Regions from separate parts of the Homo sapiens genome. Here region 2 is linked to region 1. A link means that fine-mapping ties the variant in region 1 to the expression of a gene that starts in the linked region. Tissue or cell type: substantia nigra. Region 1 holds a variant in brackets; the other region holds the start of a gene. All regions are shown on one strand. Distances are between the middles of the regions.

Region 1 (5,261 bases):
CTGTGGAAATCAGTGTGGCGATTCCTCAGGGATCTAGAACTAGAAATACCATTTGATCCAGCCATCCCATTACTGGGTATATACCCAAAGGATTATAAATCATGCTGCTATAAAGACACACCCACACATATGATTATTGCGGCACTATTCACAATAGCAAAGACTTGGAACCAACTCAAAATGTCCAACAATGATAGACTGGATTAAGAAAATGTGGCACATATACACCATGGAATACTATGCAGCCCTAAAAAATGATGAGTTCATGTCCTTTGTAGGGACATGGATGAAGCTGGAAACCATCATTCTCAGCAAACTATCGCAAGGATAAAAAACCAAACACCACATATTCTCACTCACAGGTGGGAATTGAACGATGAGAACACATGGACACAGGAAGGGGAACATCACACTCTGGGGACTGTTGTGGGGTTGGGGGAGGGGGGAGGGATAGCATTAGGAGATATACCAGTGCTAAATGACGAGTTAATGGGTGCAGCACACCAACATGGCAAATGTATACATATGTAACAAACCTGCACGTTGTGCACATGTACCCTAAAACTTAAAGAAGTTGAGACTCAAAAAGATTGACTGAATTGACCAAAGTCACATAGCTAGCATGGACTAATGTTTTTGGCACTAGGATTCATGTTCTCTAACTAAAAGAATCAGCCTCACAGTGTCCCATCTGTCTCTATCCTCTCTTCTGCAGCTCCAACTACTTGCTCCACTGCTCGGATGAATTGATATATAAACATACTTACCTTCTTTGGGCAAATGGATTTTGAATCTCAATCTCTTTCCTTTAAGCAGCAGAAAAACATTGAAGAACCTGGCCAACAATTGGATTTAAGACTTAGAATAAGGCTGGGCTTGGTGGCTCATGCCTGTAATCCCAGCACTTTGGGAGGCCAAGGCAGGCAAATCACCTGAGGTCAGGAGTTCAAGATCAGCCTGGCCAACATGGTGAAACCCTGTCTCTACCAGAAATACAAAAAATTAGCTGGGCGCGGTGCCAGTCACCTGTATTCCCAGCTACTTGGGAAGCTGAGGCAGGAGGATCACTTGAACCCAGGATACAGAGGTTGCAGTGAGACCAGATCATGCCACTGCACTCCACCCCAGGTGAAAAAAAAAAAAAAAAGAATAAGAGTGACATCTCAGGCATGGCTGTGAATGCCAAAGTAATATATGTGTAGCTGACCCAAGAATTGATAAGTTCTAGAAAGGCAGAGATAAATGTCAAGATGAAGAGTATTTTCACAATCAGTGGGTATAGTAAGGGATGAAGGGAATGAGAGAGAATATAAAGAAGATATATTCTTCATGTTCTTCATTTCACCTCGCTTTCTTGAAGATGCTTTACATTCTGAGTGGAAAACTTGATCCAGTCTCTAGTTGCTATAAAGTTGGCAGCAATCACATGATCACACCTAGGAAATTCTAATCTCTTGTGAAGACACATAAGGCAGGAGACTCCCTCAATATGAATAGGCAGCCTCCTGGGGCTCCTGACCCCATCACTCACTCAGATTACATTCTGTGCCTAGAACTCCAAATTATACAGATGGAAATGATTTCCCTGAATCAACAATGTTACTTCATTTCTCAACTAGAGAAAGGAGCTTACCTAGAGTCAATTCCTGAGGCCAAAATACAAAACCACCAGCTGGTGTCAACAACTGGCTTCCGCAGTTTGCCCTTAGTGAGTGCCTCCAAGTAGTCTAATGTTTACATTCAAGAAAAGAAAATGAACTTCATCATTTTTATAATGCTCTTTTTTATCACACTCTCTCTATCAAAAGGCTCTGAGCCCTGAGCATAATGCCCTCCCACAGCAGTGGTTTTGCTTAGAGTCCATGCTTGGTTAAGCACCAATTGTGCTTATGAAACTGTCAGTGTGAAACTGTCCACAGGACAAGCATATCAGGAGCCAGAGTTGTGAGCATGACTCTGGCAGCCCTCTGAAATTCTAAGCAAAGAAATGCTTATAAAATTACTATGTTTCCATTTCCCTTGTCTGATACCCCAGCAACTGTGGCTGCCTTCAGTAACTCTGCTCTATAGACATCCGTATACAAAAAGAATGCTTTCTGAGTTGTATACAGCTTCCCTGGGATGAGACCACAGGATTTTGTTAATGCTACGCATTTTCTTCTTAGAATGGCAGTCTTTCCCCTTATTATTTTTTTGGCAAGATAGTAAATCTGATCACCATAGAGCCTAGGGGATTCTCTAGGTGTATAAGAATGGATATTTATGTTGTTTTTTGTAGTAAATGTCCAGTAAGGCAGAAACCAAAGTACTATTTCCACAGCAAAGCTTTG[G/C]CTATCAATTCCATAGGTAGAGTGCAAGATGATCTACAGCTGTAGAATCCTTGAACACTGGTGTTTAACCACTTAGGAGTCTTCAGCCCCTTCAAAAACTGGACCTCTCTCCAGTAAAATGTACACAGGCACACACAAAGGCTGTTTGTAATTTCAGGATCTTTACATTCCCCTAAAGCCACCCATGTCTTCCCTGCTTTGACCCTACTCTTACCTCCCCTTCCCCAAGAAAGGGGAATACTCACGCAGAAGATGCCAGCTCACTCCATCTGATGGTTCTGCCCCCTTTCTCCAGGTAATTCATTACCTACCACAACCAAGGGCACTCTCCTTAATTCCTCTGAAACTCAGCTCCCTCAAAAAAGGGGAACCATAATATGTGTCCATCTACCTTATGGGATATTGTGCAAACCAAAAATGGGAAGAAGCATAAATATACTGTGAATTATAGATTAAACATTGCATATCTGCAATATTGGTGAAGAGTACATGTGTCAGCTATAATGGGCTCTGATCCATCCTGTTTCCAGCCTCTTCCATCTACATTTTTCTGAACATACCAAATTGCTGATATGGTTTTTTTTTCCTAAAGGCTTCTGGATTCACAGTGCATGCCTTTGAAAATGAGGATATGTGTGAGGGAAACTACAAGACTGTCAATTCTTTAATGACAGTGTATTGGCACCCAGGGAACAGCAAACGCTGCTGCAATCCCAATAATTCAGAAGCCTCCATAAATCATCCTGATGAGGAAGAAAAGCTAAAGCAGCGATAGTGCTTTCTGCCTTCTAGAAGACATAATGAATGGTTTAAAGGTTTCTTTAAGGGTGGCTTAGTTTTCCAATAACCCATCCCTCAATACCACCATCCCAAGCTGTCAAGTATAAACAGAGACCTCAAAGTTAGGACATAGAGAAAAATAAAGATGATAAAATATTATTCTGCACATAATAGAGAACCCAGAAATAAAGCCAAATACTTATAACCAACTAATATTCTACAAAGCATACAAGAACATAAATTGGGGAAAGGATACCCTATTTAATAAATGGTAGTAGGGAAACTGGCTACCCACATGCAAAAGGATGAAACTGGATCCCTATCCCTCACCCTATACAAAAATCAACTCAAGATGGATCAAAGACTTAAATCTAAGGCCTGAAGCCATAATAATTCTAGAGGATAACTGATAGGCTTTGGCTCTGTGTCCCCATGCAAATCTCATCTCGAACCCTACATGTCGAGGGAGGGAGCTGGTGGGAGGCGATTAGATCATGGGGGAGGTTTTCCCCATTTGTTCTGGTGATAGTGAACGAGTTCTTATGAGATCTGATGATTTTATAAGTGGTGGTTTCCCTGCTCTCTCTCTCCTGTCACTTTGTGAAGAAGTTGCCTGCTTCCCCTTTGCCTTCTGCCATGATTATAAGTTTCCTGAGGCCTCCCCAGCCATGTGGAACTGTGAGTCAATTAAACCTCTTTTGTTTACAAAATATCCAGTCTCAGATATTTCTTTACAGCAGTGTGTAAACGAACTAATACAGTAACCTTGGAAAAACTCTTCTGGATGTTGACCAAGGGAAAGAATTCATGACTAAAACCCCAACAGAAAATGAAACATAAATAAAAACAAACAAACAGGACCTGACTAAACTAAAAAGCTTCTGCACAGCAAAAGAAATAATTGTCACAGTAAACAGACAATTCACAGAATGGAAGAAAATATTTGCAAACTATGCATTCAACAAAGGACTGCTACCTATAATCTATAAGGAACTCAAACAAATTAGCAAGAAAAAAATAATAATCTCATCAAAGGTGGGCAAATGACATGAATAGACATTTCTCAAAATAAGGCCAGGAAACATATGAAAAAAATGCTCAGTGTCACTAATCATCAGGTGATACGGCTTAGCTGTGTCCCCACCCAAATCTCATCTTGAATTCATGTGTGTCGTAGGAAGGACACAGTGGGAGGTAATTGAATCATGGGGGCAGGTCTTTCCCGGGCTGTTCTCATGATAGCGAATAAGTCTCACCAAATCTGATGGTATTATAAAGGGGAGTTTCCCTGCCCAATCTCTCTCTTTTTGCCTGCTGCCATCCACGCAAGACATGACTTGCTCCTCCCTGCCTTCTGCCATGATTGTGAGGCTTCCCCAGCCACGTGGAACTGTAAGTCCAATTACACCTCTTTTTTTTTTTTTTTTTTTTGTAAATTGCCCAGTCTCTGGTATATCTTTATCAGCAGCGTGAAAATGGACTAATAAATCAGGAAAATGCAAATTCAAACCACGATGACATACAACCTTACTCCTGCAAAAATGATCATTATTAAAAAGTCAAAAAAAAAAAACAACAACAGATGTTGGCTTGGATGTGGTGAAATGGGGACACTTATACACTGCTGGTGGGGATGTAAATTAGTACACCCTCTATAGAAAACAGTATGGAGATTCCTTAAAGAACTAAAAGTAAATCTATCATCCAATCCAGCAATCCCACTACTGGGTATCTACCCAAAGGAAAATGCATTATGTGAAAAAGACACAGGCACACATATGTTTATTGCAGCACAATTTGCAATTGCAAAGATGTGGAACCAACCTAAGTGCCCATAAACCAATGAGTGGATAAAGAAAGTGTGGTATATATATACACCATGGAATACTACTCTGCCATAAAAAAGGAATAAAATAATGTATTTTTCAGCAACTTAAAAGGAGCTAGAGGCCATCATTCTAAGTGAACTAACCCAGGAAAGGAAAACCAAATACCATATGTTTTCACTTATAAGTGAACGCTAAGCTATAAGTACACAAAGGCATACGGAGTGATATAATGAATTTTGGAGACTGAGATGGGAAGGAAGGGATAGGAGTGTGAGATAAAAAAAAAAACTACATATTGGGTACAACATACACTGCTCAGGTG
Region 2 (5,000 bases), 620 kb after region 1:
GTTATCATCTGTCTTTTTGATTCTAGGCATTCTGGTGGATACTAAATGGTACCTCATTGTGGTTGTGATTTGCTCTAATAACTGAAAATGTTAAACATCTTCATGTGCTTATTGGCCTCAATTTATTTTTGACGCAATTCAGAGAAAGGTAAGGAAGATGCCTTTCAACCAATGGAAAATGCCATCCCACCAACTGCTTGCTGTCAAGCTGACTTACAAATCTCTACCTGTGCAATTGTTACAGAACCACCTTTTCCATATTATGTTATTTAGTGCATGGCAAATTATTCACTTTACTTACTACTACAAATTACAAACATCTTCATCGTATGTTTCCAGGAAAGGAAAAAGCTGAAGTACTCCTAATTACCAAAGTCAGAGCACCTAGTTGGGAGGGCACCTGTCACAATCACTCAGAAATTTACAATTCATATAAAGCCTACACAGTATCACTTCTTTTCAACATAGTTTAAGAAATCTTTAAGTAACTAAGAAGTTCAAATTCTCAAGAGAAACACGATTCACGAGGAGAGGTACTAGAAATCTGAAAGCCCTATCTATATCAAACTCATCGCAAGGTAATCTCTGCTGAGCGCCCATTTTATTACAATATGCCAGTTTTTAGTCGAAAAATTTACTTTTTTCTTACTAAGCAACAAAACCTAGATTATGCTGAAGATATATTAAAAGAACATAAACCAAGTGTGGTGGTACACATCTGTAACCCCAGCCACTCAGGGGGCTGAGGTGACAGGACTGCCTGAGCCGGGGAGTTCGAGATCAGGCTGTGCAACACAGCAAGAACCTGTCTCAAAAAATATTTTAAAAAAATAAATAAAAGAACATCTACTACCACCAACAGAATAAACTGTGATATATTTATAAAATGAAATCCCACAGAAGAATAAGAGGATAAAAGGAATTAACTACTGATACGTACAACACGGACTAACCTCAAAAATATTTTTTGAGCAGCCAGACACGGCGGCTCACATCTGTAATTCCAACATTTTCAGAGGCAAAAGCAGGACGATTACTTGAGCTCAGGAGTGAGTCTACAGTGAACTGTGACTGTGCCATTGCACTCCAGCCTGGGTCAGAGCTGGTTCCATTTACATGAAGTTCAAAAAAAGGCAAAACTATCTATTTATGATGATAAAAGTCAGAATAAGAAGGTGGCAGGGATTGACAGAGGGTACAAGGGAACTTCCTGGGATGATGTAACATCTTGCATATTGAGGGAGGTGTGGTTATACAGTACATGGGTTTGTCCAAACTCATCAAACTGTAACATTTAATATCCATACACTGGAGAATACATTTCATAGAAGCAGATGATAGAAATGGCCATTTTCTCACATAATCTGTAAAAGAAGTGCAACACTGCTGACTATTCCTTCCTTACAAGTCATTACCAATTCGGTTTCAGTGAGACCACACTGGTTTCCCTTCTCATCCGGACTATTCTTTAAACACATTCTCCTTCTCCACCCTTCCCTCATGTTTCTATACTCTAACTATAATCCAACCTTTCTTCCCTACAAATTACCACCTATGGGCTGAAGACACCCAAGTTTATTAAACTCCATATTCAAAAATCTAGCTGCTACCAAGCATGACATATCACAAACTCAACATTTATAAACCCTAAACTCTTCCTTCCCGTTCCCACCGCAACTCCCCCACTAACCCCCGAAAAAAAAAAAAAAAACTTGCCCTTCTTATCTGAGATTAGAATCATCTGTTTTTGTTTTTAGAGACAGGGTCTCACTATGTTGCCCCAGGCTGATCTCAAACTCCTGGGCTCAAGCGACCCTCGGCCTCGGCCTTCCAAAGTGCTGTGATTTACAGGCGTGAGCCACGGTACCAGACCTGAAATCTTTCTTAAACATCTGCCTCTTGGGCAAGCTGCAGTGTCCCACAGAAAAAGGAAATGAAGCAACAGTAATGGAGTATCCTTTACACCTCATCTGGGCCCCTCACTACTGCAGTCTAACTGCGTATCTCACCGACACTTCCCACACTTCTCTAGAGGATTAGGAGGGAATATACTATCTCAGACAGCTTCTGGTGAACAGTTAACACTTATCCAGAACCAACCACCTGCCCAAACTGCTAGTCACTTGACACACTTCATTTAATGTGTACTAACGCCGCCCTGGATGAAACTGAGCTCACAATAAATTAAATAACTTGGCCAAGGTCACACAATTAAAGCGGAAAACGCCATGATTTGAAAAGGCACGTCTGGGGCTCTAAAATCCCTCATGTTTACCCCCAACACATGCTGGAGAGTCAAACTCCAATTGGTAGAATCTGCGTGAAATGGAATACTTTTCAGACAACCCAAACAACGAGCATCTGTCAAATATTTTACAATCGGGAAAGTGTAACCTCGCTGCATGCAACTTCCCTCCCTGGACGTGTTAAGTAACCTGTTAAATTTCCCAACCCAGATCATAGCCCCCCAACCCCCTGCACCATGGTTTCTCTAAACGCCTTTATAGCCCCGCGCTCTCTAATCTCGAGCTCAAGTGAGGCTGCCTATGGGGCTCTGGCAGATGACAAACGACAAGGAGGCCGAAAGCCAGATGTCTTCGAATTGAGGGAGAAGGCCGGACCTCTGACTCGGGTCACACTGGGGACCCCCACAAACCATCCCTTTTAGACAAGTGACCCCGGGGGTCACCTTGACCCCTGCAGTGAGCCAGACCAAACTTCCACGCCAGGCCAGCCCCCGCCAGGTGAGCAGGTACACAAAAAGAAGCCTCAGTGACCACCGTACGCTGGTGTGGAGAGGCCCCGGGAGGTGCAAGGAGAACAGAGACGAACTCGACCGCGGGCAGAAGCCTCCCCTGGCTCCAACGCCGCGACTGCCTGTCGCCGAGGCTAGGGCCGCCACTTCTCATGTCCGAGCTGGCCAGGCGCCACTCGTACCTGCGGGCTATAGGCCTCCGAAGCCCATGCTCCTGCCAACTTCTGCGTGAAGCCACTAAACTTGTAGTACATGACGCCCAGAGTCCGGCTTCCCGCATCCGCTGCCAACGCGACCGCCCCAGAGAAGGACCCCGCCTCCCCGGCTGTGGTCCCGAGACTCAGCGCAAGGACCCGGTGCTGGGACTAGGGCTGCCCGAAGATCGCCTAACTTAAAACCTGCACACTTAAGCCGCATTGGGGAACCAAAAGCCAGGGTTCTCAGGACCACGAAAGGCAAAACCAGCTCTAAGAGAGCACGCAAAGTCGCTGTGGCGGAGTCTGTAGGAAATATGAAGTTCCCTCTTTCCCCCATTCAGATTTGGGCAGTGCCACGACAACTCAAGAAATGCGCAAGCGCTCCACGGACTAAGCCCGGCGGACTAAGCCCGGCAGTGTCGGAGTCAGGTGGAGCATGCTTTAGGAGGGGCGGGCTCCAGGCGGGGCCTGGGGGGGAGAGGGCGGTGATTGGTGGGCGTGGTCTGGGTAGGGGCGGGGCTACATCGAAGCCGGTTGGGAATTCCACCATCCGAGAGAGTCTGTGCTGCGGAGCCACCGTCTGGTCGTCGGGTTGAAGGCGTCTCTTGCTTTACCGAACTTTAACTGATCGTAGTCTCATTTATTTCCTTCCGACCTAGAGCACCTCTTATCCAGAAGCCACCACCTGCTGTTGCTCAGTCTGCCCAGGAGTATAGACTTGTCGGCCAAGCTTCCCCTGGCAACCTGGGAGTTGAAGCAAATAAGAAAATTTGGAAGCACCTGCTGAAGGCTGTTTAGTACCCAGGGCTGTTGGGAGATTTGCCCCAATAATATAAAAGTAGCCTCCTGGGCTTTGTGCAGAGGAAATACACATGCAGAGTGATCTAAAGCTCAGGTACCAGGATGTAAATGTCACACGGTTTCTCAGAACTGGTTTTTATTCTCACCTGAGTTTTAAGGTCATTGATTATTCATCCTTTTCCTGGCCTCTGCTCTTTGCGATAAATGAGGTAGGGGGAGGGTGATCAGAAACACTTGTAAAATCTGGACCTTGAGCCTGAAAGATCTGGAACTACCACTTTCAGTTCTGGTAGTATTCGCTTCAGTTCAATTTAAATATGTCTGTTAAGCCTGTGCTGTGTGCAAGGTACTGTGTAAAAGGAGTATACTAGTTTCTTACTCTCCAGGGATGGACTCAGGCTTTTCTTAGCTTCATCATCTAACCATAGGTTTACACAAGCATATTCTAGATGCACTTATGAAATCATGTTGCAAATTGATGGATGATACTAACCTATATATAGCATTGCCCTAAACTCATTTAATCTTCACAACAATCCTATAAGGTAAATGCTATTATCATCTCCATTTTAGAATACAGGAAAATGACGCCTGGAGAAGCTAAGTAACTTGCTCAGGTCAGGGATAAGTGGCAGAGCTAGGCATTTGGCTCAAGACTTCCTACTGTTAAGCACTATGTTACAAATAAATAGATATGAAGCCATTCTGAAAAGAGGAGGATCAAGGCTGAGCATTCCAGGGTGAGGGTGTACACCAGCATCCTGGTTGCAGGCTTACGTTCAAGAGCCCCAAGTATTCAGCACCGCCAATATGTTGTAAAGGTTTCAGCGAATTCATGTAAGCCAGCCCAAAGTTGCCACTTTTACAAAGAGACACTGTGATATAATGGAAAGAACATGCAATTTGGGTTTATGTCCATATTTCTCCAAGGATAAGTGGTTTGGGACTAGTGATTTCCTTTTTTTTTTTTTTTTTTTTAAATTCTTTTTGAAACAGGGTCTCACTCTGTCCCAGGCTGGAGTACAGTGGTGTGATCTCGGCTCATTGCAGCCTTGACTTCCCAGGCTGAGGTGATTCTCCTACCTCAGTCTCCCGGGTAGCTGGAACCACAGATGCGCGCCACCACGCCTGGCTAATTTTTTGTATTTTTAGTAGAGATGGGGTTTCACCATGTTTCCCAGGCTAGTCTCAAACTCCTGGGCTCAAGTGATCTGCCAAACTCAAGACTCCCAAAATGCTGGGATTAC

What was found. PIP is the estimated chance that this variant, and not a neighbour inherited with it, causes the effect.
Region 2: COX7A2L starts here. The variant in region 1 is fine-mapped to the expression of COX7A2L in substantia nigra (GTEx, PIP 0.98).

What each region holds. Positions count from the first base shown.
Region 1 is chr2:41,740,503-41,745,763 of GRCh38, forward strand. No RefSeq gene overlaps it. Among named protein-coding and RNA genes, the nearest start is that of LINC01913, 130 kb to the right of the region's middle. The variant G/C (reference allele first, on the strand shown) is at 2,331.
Region 2 is chr2:42,358,153-42,363,152 of GRCh38, forward strand. COX7A2L (cytochrome c oxidase subunit 7A2 like) reads right to left here and starts at 3,065. Exons shown (of 3, transcript NM_004718.4): 1 at 2,938-3,065. The coding sequence starts at 3,009. RefSeq lists enhancers at 1,474-1,553, 2,238-2,982, 2,756-3,075, 2,983-3,726, 3,096-3,155 and 1 more and a silencer at 3,356-3,525.